Homo sapiens: one gene and its partner. The protein of the gene in region 2 interacts with the protein of the main gene of each other region in a biochemical or structural test. Each region holds a gene or a part of one and is shown on either strand. Other genes may lie near its edges.

What was found.
Region 1: the proteins of SAA1 (region 2) and SELENOS form a complex in vitro, tested with the Homo sapiens proteins (one study listed by BioGRID).

Annotation. Positions count from the first base shown.
Region 1 is NC_000015.10:101,274,633-101,278,947, forward strand, and holds the start of SELENOS (selenoprotein S), read right to left. Parts: upstream 2,854-4,315; 5' UTR 2,786-2,853; coding exon 2,710-2,785; intron 2,044-2,709; coding exon 1,909-2,043; intron 730-1,908; coding exon 623-729; intron 50-622; coding exon 1-49. UniProt on the Homo sapiens protein: Involved in the degradation process of misfolded endoplasmic reticulum (ER) luminal proteins. Participates in the transfer of misfolded proteins from the ER to the cytosol, where they are destroyed by the proteasome in a ubiquitin-dependent manner.
Region 2 is NC_000011.10:18,264,964-18,269,330, reverse strand, and holds the start of SAA1 (serum amyloid A-1 protein preproprotein), read right to left. Parts: upstream 3,068-4,367; 5' UTR 3,035-3,067; exon of another isoform or gene 2,888-3,034; intron 2,448-2,887; 5' UTR 2,444-2,447; coding exon 2,353-2,443; intron 137-2,352; coding exon 1-136. UniProt on the Homo sapiens protein: Major acute phase protein.

The DNA of each region.
Region 1 (4,315 bases), on a different chromosome or scaffold from region 2:
GCATGCTGTCCCACATTTCAATCTTCTGTCTCCTTTTTTCTTCTTCAAGCTGAGAAACAATCACATTTTACAGAAAGAATTCAGAAGCTGCCATTTCTCTCAAAGACAAAGCTAACTCTGATAATTCTTAATTTAAATGTCTTTCAGAACAAACTTCACCCTCGTTTTCTTTAGTTAATAAAACTGTTGTGATCTGGTAGTGTGAGTTTAACTCACATAGAGCAGCTTTGGTTTTTGTACACTATTAAAGAAAGCAAAATGTTTCATGAAAAAGATTACTGACTCCATTCTTCTGAAACTCACTCCTGTCAGGACATTTTTGGTAATGGGGAAGACACAGGCACATGCACACACACACTCACATGCTCCCTGCTCCAGCCTGTCCCTCCTTTTGTGCTCTGGACCTTTCATGGTAATATATTCACACATCTAGTGTTCCCTAACAATCGTGTATTCTTCTTGATATCACCAATACTTACATGGTAGGAACTGAAATGCTTATTGAATCTAATGGGATAGGACCTGGTCCTAGAAGCTTATAGACAACACAGACACAGGCATCGTTAGCCACTAAACCTCAGACAATTTCTATGCACACATTCAAACTGAAACCAGTTCATACTTGTTTCAGTTTTTCCTTATGCTTTTCAACTTGCGCATTTAGTTCTTCTTGCATTTTCAGTCGAGCAGCTGCTAAAGCTTCTTGTCGTTTAACAACAACATCAGGTTCTAAAATGTCAGAAAAAAATGGAGATAAAGCACTGTGTACAATATAAAATAGAAACTTTTGAGTGTCCATATTATTAAAAGTATAAAGAGGTATGGATATCAGACAATGAAACAACATATTTTTACATAAGTACTCCTAACCCCTCTGCATACATTTTACTGCTTCAGGGGGCAGGGGTCTGTTGCTGAGCCACGGATTTTAGCCCGAAATATCTACATCACCAGAAATCTGTTAGAAATGCCAATTTCTGAGTTCCCCTGAGCAATTCCGATTCATAAAGCCTGGGATAGTGGCCACACAGAGCACATCTTGGATACCTCAGTGACACCCACAGTCTCTAGGCTGACTAGAATCCTGGAAGACTACCAAGGAAATATAAAGTTTTCTAAATCATTATCCATCCCTTAATTAGCGCAGAAGATTCTTAAGTATTTGTTTCTACAGAAAAGAAAAATCCTTCCAAATAGCATTATGAATAGAAATGAACTCATTTCTATTCATAACGTCTACTCATAGAGTCTCGCTCTTTGCAACAAGGCTAGACTCCATCTCATAGAAAAAAAAAAAAAAAAGAAAGAAAAGACAGTCTCACTCTGTTGCCCAGGCTGGAGTGCAGTGGCACAATCTCAGCTCACTGCAATCTCCAGCTCCCAGGTTCAAGCGATTTCTCCTGCCTCAGCCACCCTAATAGCTGGGATTACAGGTGCCCGTCACCACGCCCCACTAATATTTGTATTTTTAGTAGAGACAGGGTTTCACCATGTTGGCCAGGCTGTTCTCGAACCCCTGACCTCAAGTCATCCTCCTGCCTCGGCTTCCCAAAGTGCTGGGATTACAGGTGTGAGCCACCGCGCCCCACCGAGAACCATATACTTCCTACTTTTTTTTTTTTTTTTTTTTTAAAGACAAGGTCTCAATCAATTGCCCAGGCTGGAGTGTAGTGTGGCCCGAGCATAGCCCACTGCAGCTTTGACTCCCTGGACTCAAGTGATTATCCCGCCTCAGCCTCCTGAGCAGCTGGGACTACAGGTGCGTGCCGCCACTCCCGGCTATTTTTTTTTTTTTTAAATAGAGACAGGGTCTTCCTGTGTGGCCCCTCTTACTTTTACTAAGAGACTAACTCTTAATATAAAGGAGGTGCAAAACCACCGCTTTCATTTCGGTTATCAGGCACTAACCCACAGCAGCCGCAGCTCGGTCCAGCTGCCTCTGCCTCAAGGCTCTTAGCCGGGCGGAAAGCTTCTGAAAGACCACGTAGAGAAGGATGCAGCTGAAGACGATGTACCAGCCATAGGTGGCCAGCAGGGAGCCCACTGAAAAGAAAAACAGTTTTCAAAAAACTAAAAATGACACTACTAGTTGACCTTTCCATAAGACTCAACAAACACAAAGTGTAACTCCTGCCCTCAAAGCCTTCATGGTCTAGGCTGAGGAAAAAGCCTCCTAAGTAGATCGTTAAAACACGAACTCAAGAAGTGCGACAATTCAGGGATCACTGAGAAGTGAGACTTCCCAACCATCTGGGGAGTCGGGGGCAGTTAGAGTGTGGAGGGCACAGCAACTGGGTTTTGAAGAATGAAGAGCAACTAATCTGAATCAGGAAGGCAAAGGCCTTTCAGAGCCACATAGAAAGGGGTGACAGCGCGGGGAGTCAGGAGTGTGTATGGGGCTGTGTGGGACGGGTCCCAGAGGCAAACGCCAACGGCCGAGTGACCCCAGTAACTACCACAGGAAGGGCTTGGTTCGCAAAAAAGACTTGCGCAAACAAGGGACAGCCGAGCCGCCCAGGGAAGTGCGGCTCCCGAGAAGCCTCCGCGCAAGGTCCGGGCCTGCTGCCCAAGGTCCGCGTAAGCGCCAACGCCCGACCGTTCCCAGGCCTCCCAGGCTCCGGCGCCCGGTGCAGCGGCGGACGACCCACCCATCATGGCTGCGCGTCGCAAAAGTGGCGGCGCGCGCCCGGCTGCCCCGCAACGACTCACCCGTGGTGTGCAGGAAGCGCAGCCCCTCGGTCTCCAGGGCCGGCCGCGCGGACAGAGACTCCTCTTGGCGTTCCATGACCGCCGCCGCCGCCGCCGCCCAGCCCTGCCGCCGCGCCTCCAGCCGGGCGCTTCCGGTGCGCTCCTACGCACACGTGGCGCGCCCGGACGCGGTCGTGGTCCCGGCCAATCGCAGGCCGACCCCGCCCCGTCGCTGGGCCAAACGCAGGGGGGCGTGGCCGAGGGGCGTGGCGGGGGAGAAATCCCGGCTACGCTCGCCGGGGCCGGGACAGCGCGTGTGGGAACGTTCTGTGCTATCTCTTGGCTTGAGTCGGGGGTGGAGGACGGACCTCGTTCACGGATTTCTTACCGAATTTCTACTTTCTTTTTTTTTTCTAATTGGACACTGAAGCCAAGGAAGTCAGTGGTCGCCCGGAAGCAGGATTTGCACCCACATCCTTGCCCGGGGCACATTGGACAACAGGGCTCAGTTGGTTGACGACTCCCAGCATTTGAGGGTTGCAGCCAACGTCCACCCCAAGTGAAGACACGAAATGTGAGCAGCCTCCTGCTCCTGCTGCTGGTGATACCTTTCAGGCCAAGAAAGTCCCCACCGATCCTCAAGGTTCTTTCTCCAAAATCAAAGCCTTTTAGGAAAGAACGATCATAGTAACTGCTCTAACCTGTGTTGAATTATACTGTATCACCACAAGACACGATCACAGAGTTACTTATAATAGTGTCCTGGCTGTGTTCCTCTGCCTGCAACGCCGTCCCGCACCCTCTTCCACCACTCAAACGTCACCACCTTTATGGTGACCATAACCATCCTATTTGAAATGTGACCTTGGGTTTTTCTGGAGCATTTGAAGTGCACATACCTAGCTGTGTTTCAAAAGAAGGGTTGGGAATTGGGAATAGAACTGAAAAAATAATGAATAGGTGACAACATCCGAGTGCTGCGTCACCACTGTCGCCAGGAGCAGTGTGGGGAAGGCAAACCATGACATGAAGCGTGAACGCAATCAGTGTTTCTTCAATGCAGGTTTGCCAAGAAGTTCCTCAAGGGGGACAGCTGCAGGGATTTGAGCACTGACCTCATCAAGCTTTCCCAGCAGTGTGTTCAGAAAGCAATAAAGGGGACCTGGCATTCATGAGCCATAGCAAAGAGAAGCCTGAAAGCTCTTCTTCCCTGTTGGCCACCTTGAAAATGGACTCCTCAGATGAACCGAGGACTCTGGATGTTATCCATAAAGGCTGTGAAGATAGCTTATCGATTTAATGAGGAATTTTAGGAGGGAGAATTTCCTTCTTCATGTTTGCCTTTCCGTTGTAAAAGGTGATGAACCATCACCACTCTTTGCTTTGCTACAGATGATTTCTCACTTGCTCTGGCATCTTGCAGGAACATTTATGTGCTAAATTGAATGACTTCTATGGAATTAGTTGCAATTCTCAGTCCCAGATTAGCTTTAAATCCGCCTTACATCTAAATACTGATAAACTAGACAGGATGAGCAGGGTTGCCTCAACTATTTTGTTAGGCTGTGAAGGACATTAGGTATACCGTACTGGGGTCATAGTTCATGGAAAAAAATGGTTAGGGCCT
Region 2 (4,367 bases):
ATCACTTCTGCAGCCCAGGCACCCCCAGGTCCCCTTTTGGCAGCATCATAGTTCCCCCGAGCATGGAAGTATTTGTCTGAGCCGATGTAATTGGCTTCTCTCATGTCAGAGTAGGCTCTCCACATGTCCCGAGCCCCTGGAAAGGAAAGGAAAGGCAGAAGGGACATCAGGAGAACATAAAGACTCCAACAACACCTTAGAGGGGAATGAGGAAGGACAAATCTTCCACTGACTTCAAGCTTTCAGCCTGTGATCATAGCAGCCTTGGATACCATGGGTTGAGAAGCACATTCCTTTATCCTAGTTGGCTTCTTCAAGTGCCCTGGTGAAGAGCCACTGCTATAGAATGAAGCTGCCTATGATAAGATCCAGGAGTGTGTATGAATGAGGTAGTGACATGGAATACTGATGCTGAGAAAGGTGGCAGACACAGAGTACTTCTGCCCTGACTACTAAAGTTTATATTCTTTTTTTTTTTTTTTTTTTTTTTTTTTTTTTTAGACAGAGTCTTGCTCTGTCGCCCAGGCTGGAGTGCAGTGGTGCTATCTCAGCTCATCGCAACCTCCACCTCCCAGGTTCAAGAGATTCTTCTGCCTCAGCCTCCTGAGTAGCTGAGATTACAGGCATGCGCCATCACGCCTGGCTAATTTTTGTATTTTTAGTAGAGACGGGGATTTCACCATGTTGGTCAGGCTGGTCTCGAACTCCTGACCTCGTGATCCCCCTGCCTTGGCCTCCCAAAGTGCTGGGATTACAGGCGTGAGCCACCGCACCCCGACCTAAAGTATATATTCTTGCAAATGGAATACACGTCATTGTGACGTGAGTTCCAGTGACTGTTAGGAGCATAAAAGTCCCTAAATACTTTCTTAGTAGGCTGTACTGATGCTGTGGGTTGCTTGAGGAAGCAATAGGGCAGTGGTGCTCTGCCTTGGCTGCACTTTCTTTTTCATTTTTTTTAGATGGAGTCTCGCTCTGTCACCCAGGTTGGAGGACACTGGTGCGATCTCTAGTCACTGCAACCTCTGCTTCTCGGGTTCAAGTGATTCTCGTGCTTCAGCCTCCTGAGTAGCTGGGATTACAGGTGCCTGCCACCACGCCTGGCTACATTTTAGTATTTTTAGTAGAGACGGGGTTTCACCATGTTGGCCAGGCTGCTCCGGAACTCATGACCTCAAGTGATTCATCCACCTTGGCCTCCCAAAGTGCTGGAATTACAGGCGTGAGCCTTGGCTGCACTTTCTAATCACCCAGAGAGAAACTGAAAGTCCCAGTGCCCAGGCCACACCCCAGGCCAGTTTCTGCAGACTCTGCTGGGGAGTTGAAGGCATGGGTATTTCAGGTGATGCCAAGGTGTGCCTGAGATTCATAACCATCAACCTCTAGGAGGTGGTCAGTGATGCGTCTACCTGGCAAGAGCCCTGACCTCAAGCACAGCCGGGCTCAAACCTCTGCCCTGCCACCTGCTGACTGGCAGTAAGTCCCTGGGCATTGGCTTCAGCTGCTCTAAGTCTCAGCTTTCTCACCTTCCAAGATCAGCTTTCTCACCTTCCAAGAGAGGAAGATTGCGTCACAGAGTCATTCTGAAACTAAATGAGAAAATGCTGTGGTCCTTGTGGGGGCTTGAGGCACGTTAGTTCCCAGCTCTTGTCAAGAAGGCTGGAGAAGGAAGAATGGAAACAGAACAAACCAGGAAGGGAGCCCCTGACAGAGCGAGGCTAAAGAGCCCTGTACATTATCCAACTAGGAAATCGAAGGAGGAAGGAGAAAGAAGACAGAAGAGTCAACAGCCTTAGTCATACTCCTATGCGATTTATGCTGAGGGACATTTTATACCCATTGCAGGCCTTATTTTGCATCTTCTACGCAAAACAAACAGCTCAGGTGCTCCTGGAAAGGATGATTGTTCTTTCTCTGAGTAACTGACAACAATCCTCGACTCTCTAATCTGTTTAGCAGCTCCCCAGGCACATTGGGCAGCACAACCTAAGGCAGCGGCTCAAATCTTAAGGAAGCCCAAAAATACCCCGTGTGCGTTGTTACTGGATGCCCCGTCCCTTACGGCTCAGGAGATGTGTTTTTGATACACCTTGCAGCGGCTTCTGAAATGTGATCCATCCACTTAACACATCCTGAGAAGCTGCACTACGGGGAAAGGGGATATTCCCAGCAGCTCTGAAAGACTCGAGACAGGCAACCCAGCAAACCCTAGTTCCTGGCAGGCCTCAGCAACGCAGACACTAGCAACTCTGTGGTTCAAAAGCAGCCTTCCGAAAGCATCATTTTCCCCAGTTTATCAGGTCCAGGGTGATGTTTCTCTTCAGAAATCCTGCAAACCTTCTGAAGCCTTACCATCAAAAGCCTCGCCAAGGAACGAAAAGAAGCTTCGGCTGCTGACACCCAGGACCAAGGAGCAGAAAACCAGGCCCGTGAGAAGCTTCATGGTGCTGAAATGAAAGGAGAAGTCAGGCAGTCGCCCACAAGACTGGCACAGCTTCCCTTGGGACTTATATTCCGACGAGAGCCTGGTTATTTCCACTGGATCTTATTAGAGTCTCAGTGGCTCATCTAGGAAACCTTGCAGCAGGACCTCACTCAGAGCCAGAAGCCCTCGGTTCTGAACCCATCAGCCCTGAAGCCTGACTGCATAAGAGGATGCCAACGTGGCACTGATGGAGGAAGGCAGGAGTTACCACCAGACTGTCACTCCCTCAAGTAGCCTATAATTCCCCATAACGCATTTACCGTGTGTTCCCTCTGCCCCGCACAGAACTCAACATGGGATAAACACAAAGCAGGATCATTATTTTTTATTCTTAAAGCCTTTAGCACCTGGTATTCCCAGGTGTTCTCCCATCCAAGTACTACCAGGCCCGACCCTGCTTACCTCTCTAGATCAGAGGAGATAAGACACCTTCAGAATGGTATGGCTGTATGCCCCAGGATAACTATTTTTTTTAAAGGAAATGATAATCTTGTTGGGAAAGAGAAAACAGAGTAAGTTTTAAAAATCACTCCTTGGTGTGCTCCTCACCTGATCTGTGCTGTAGCTGAGCTGCGGGTCCCTGCCTGCCAGGGAGCGGTGGCTGCTATTTATACTGAGCCTTCCCTGCTGGTTTCTTGGGAGCGAAGAAAAGCTGGATGTGGTCCCTGGGGAAAGTCCCTGCAGGTCATTTCCCCTACAAAACGGTCTAAGACAAGTTCCTGGATGCCAGTGGTTTCTTCATCCCGGGTCATTTATCCCAGTTGTGCAACCTGAGGGAACAAGATGTGCCTGGCAGCTGTCAGGGCAGGAGACCAGCTCTGCTCCTCAGCATTGAGGGGGCTGAGGCTGCGGAGTTGAGAGTGGGAGCCCCGTGATGGCGGCACCTGGGCTGCTGGAAGGTGTGAAGTGAGGGCAGCTTTGAAGCCAGCTCCTGACTCTACCAGTCATTTCCTCAGGATGGGCTCTGCTGGGCCACATGGCAGATGCCTCTGAAATGAAGTCCCTCTGAGTTCATATCTAAAGCTTCAAAGCTGACAGACTAGGTCCAGCACAGTGGCTCACTCCTATAATCCCAATGCTTTTGGAGGCCAAGGCAGGAGGATCACTTGGGGTCAAGAGTTTAAGATCACTCTGTGCAAAACTGTAAGATCTTGTCTCTACGAAATATAAAAATAAATGGACCGGGTGTGGTAGTGTGCACCTGCAGTCCCAGCTACTCAAGAGGCTGAAGCGGAAGGATTGTGGGAGACCCAGGAGGTCAAGGCTGCAGTGAGCTATAATCACGCCACTGCACTCCAGCCTGGTTAACAGAGCAAGACCCTGTGTCTAAAAGAAAACAAAATAAAACTAGCAGCCTACCCCTGCCATGTCTCATGTGTGCCCTGGAAGGCTCCTTCCACCCCTCAGTCTAGATATCCAGAGATTTACCTCCTCAGCACAGAAAAGCCCTGCTCAGCTGGCCTAGTCAATTAGGAAATTAGGAAGGAAGGAAGTGGTCAGTACCAGAGCCCAGCAGGGCTGAGGCCAGGACATGCAGAGAGGCTGGTGGATATAGCAGCAACTGTGGTTTCTTCTTCTCCAGTCCGTTTTCACTCTTTTATTTTTTCTTTCTTTCCTTCCTTCCTTCATTTCTTCCTTCCTCTCTCTTTCTCCTTCCTTCCTTCCTTACTCCCTCTCTGTCTTCCTCCTTCCTTCTTCTCTCTTCCTCCTTCCTTCCTCTCTCTCTTCCTTCCTTCTTTCCCTCCTTTCTTCCTCTTTCCCTCCCTCCCTTCCCTCCCTCCCTCCTTCCTTCCTTCTTTTCTTCCTCCCTTCTTCTCTTCCTCCCTTCCTTCCTCTCTCTTTCTCCTTCCTTCCTCTCTCTTTCTCCTTCCTTCCTTCCTCT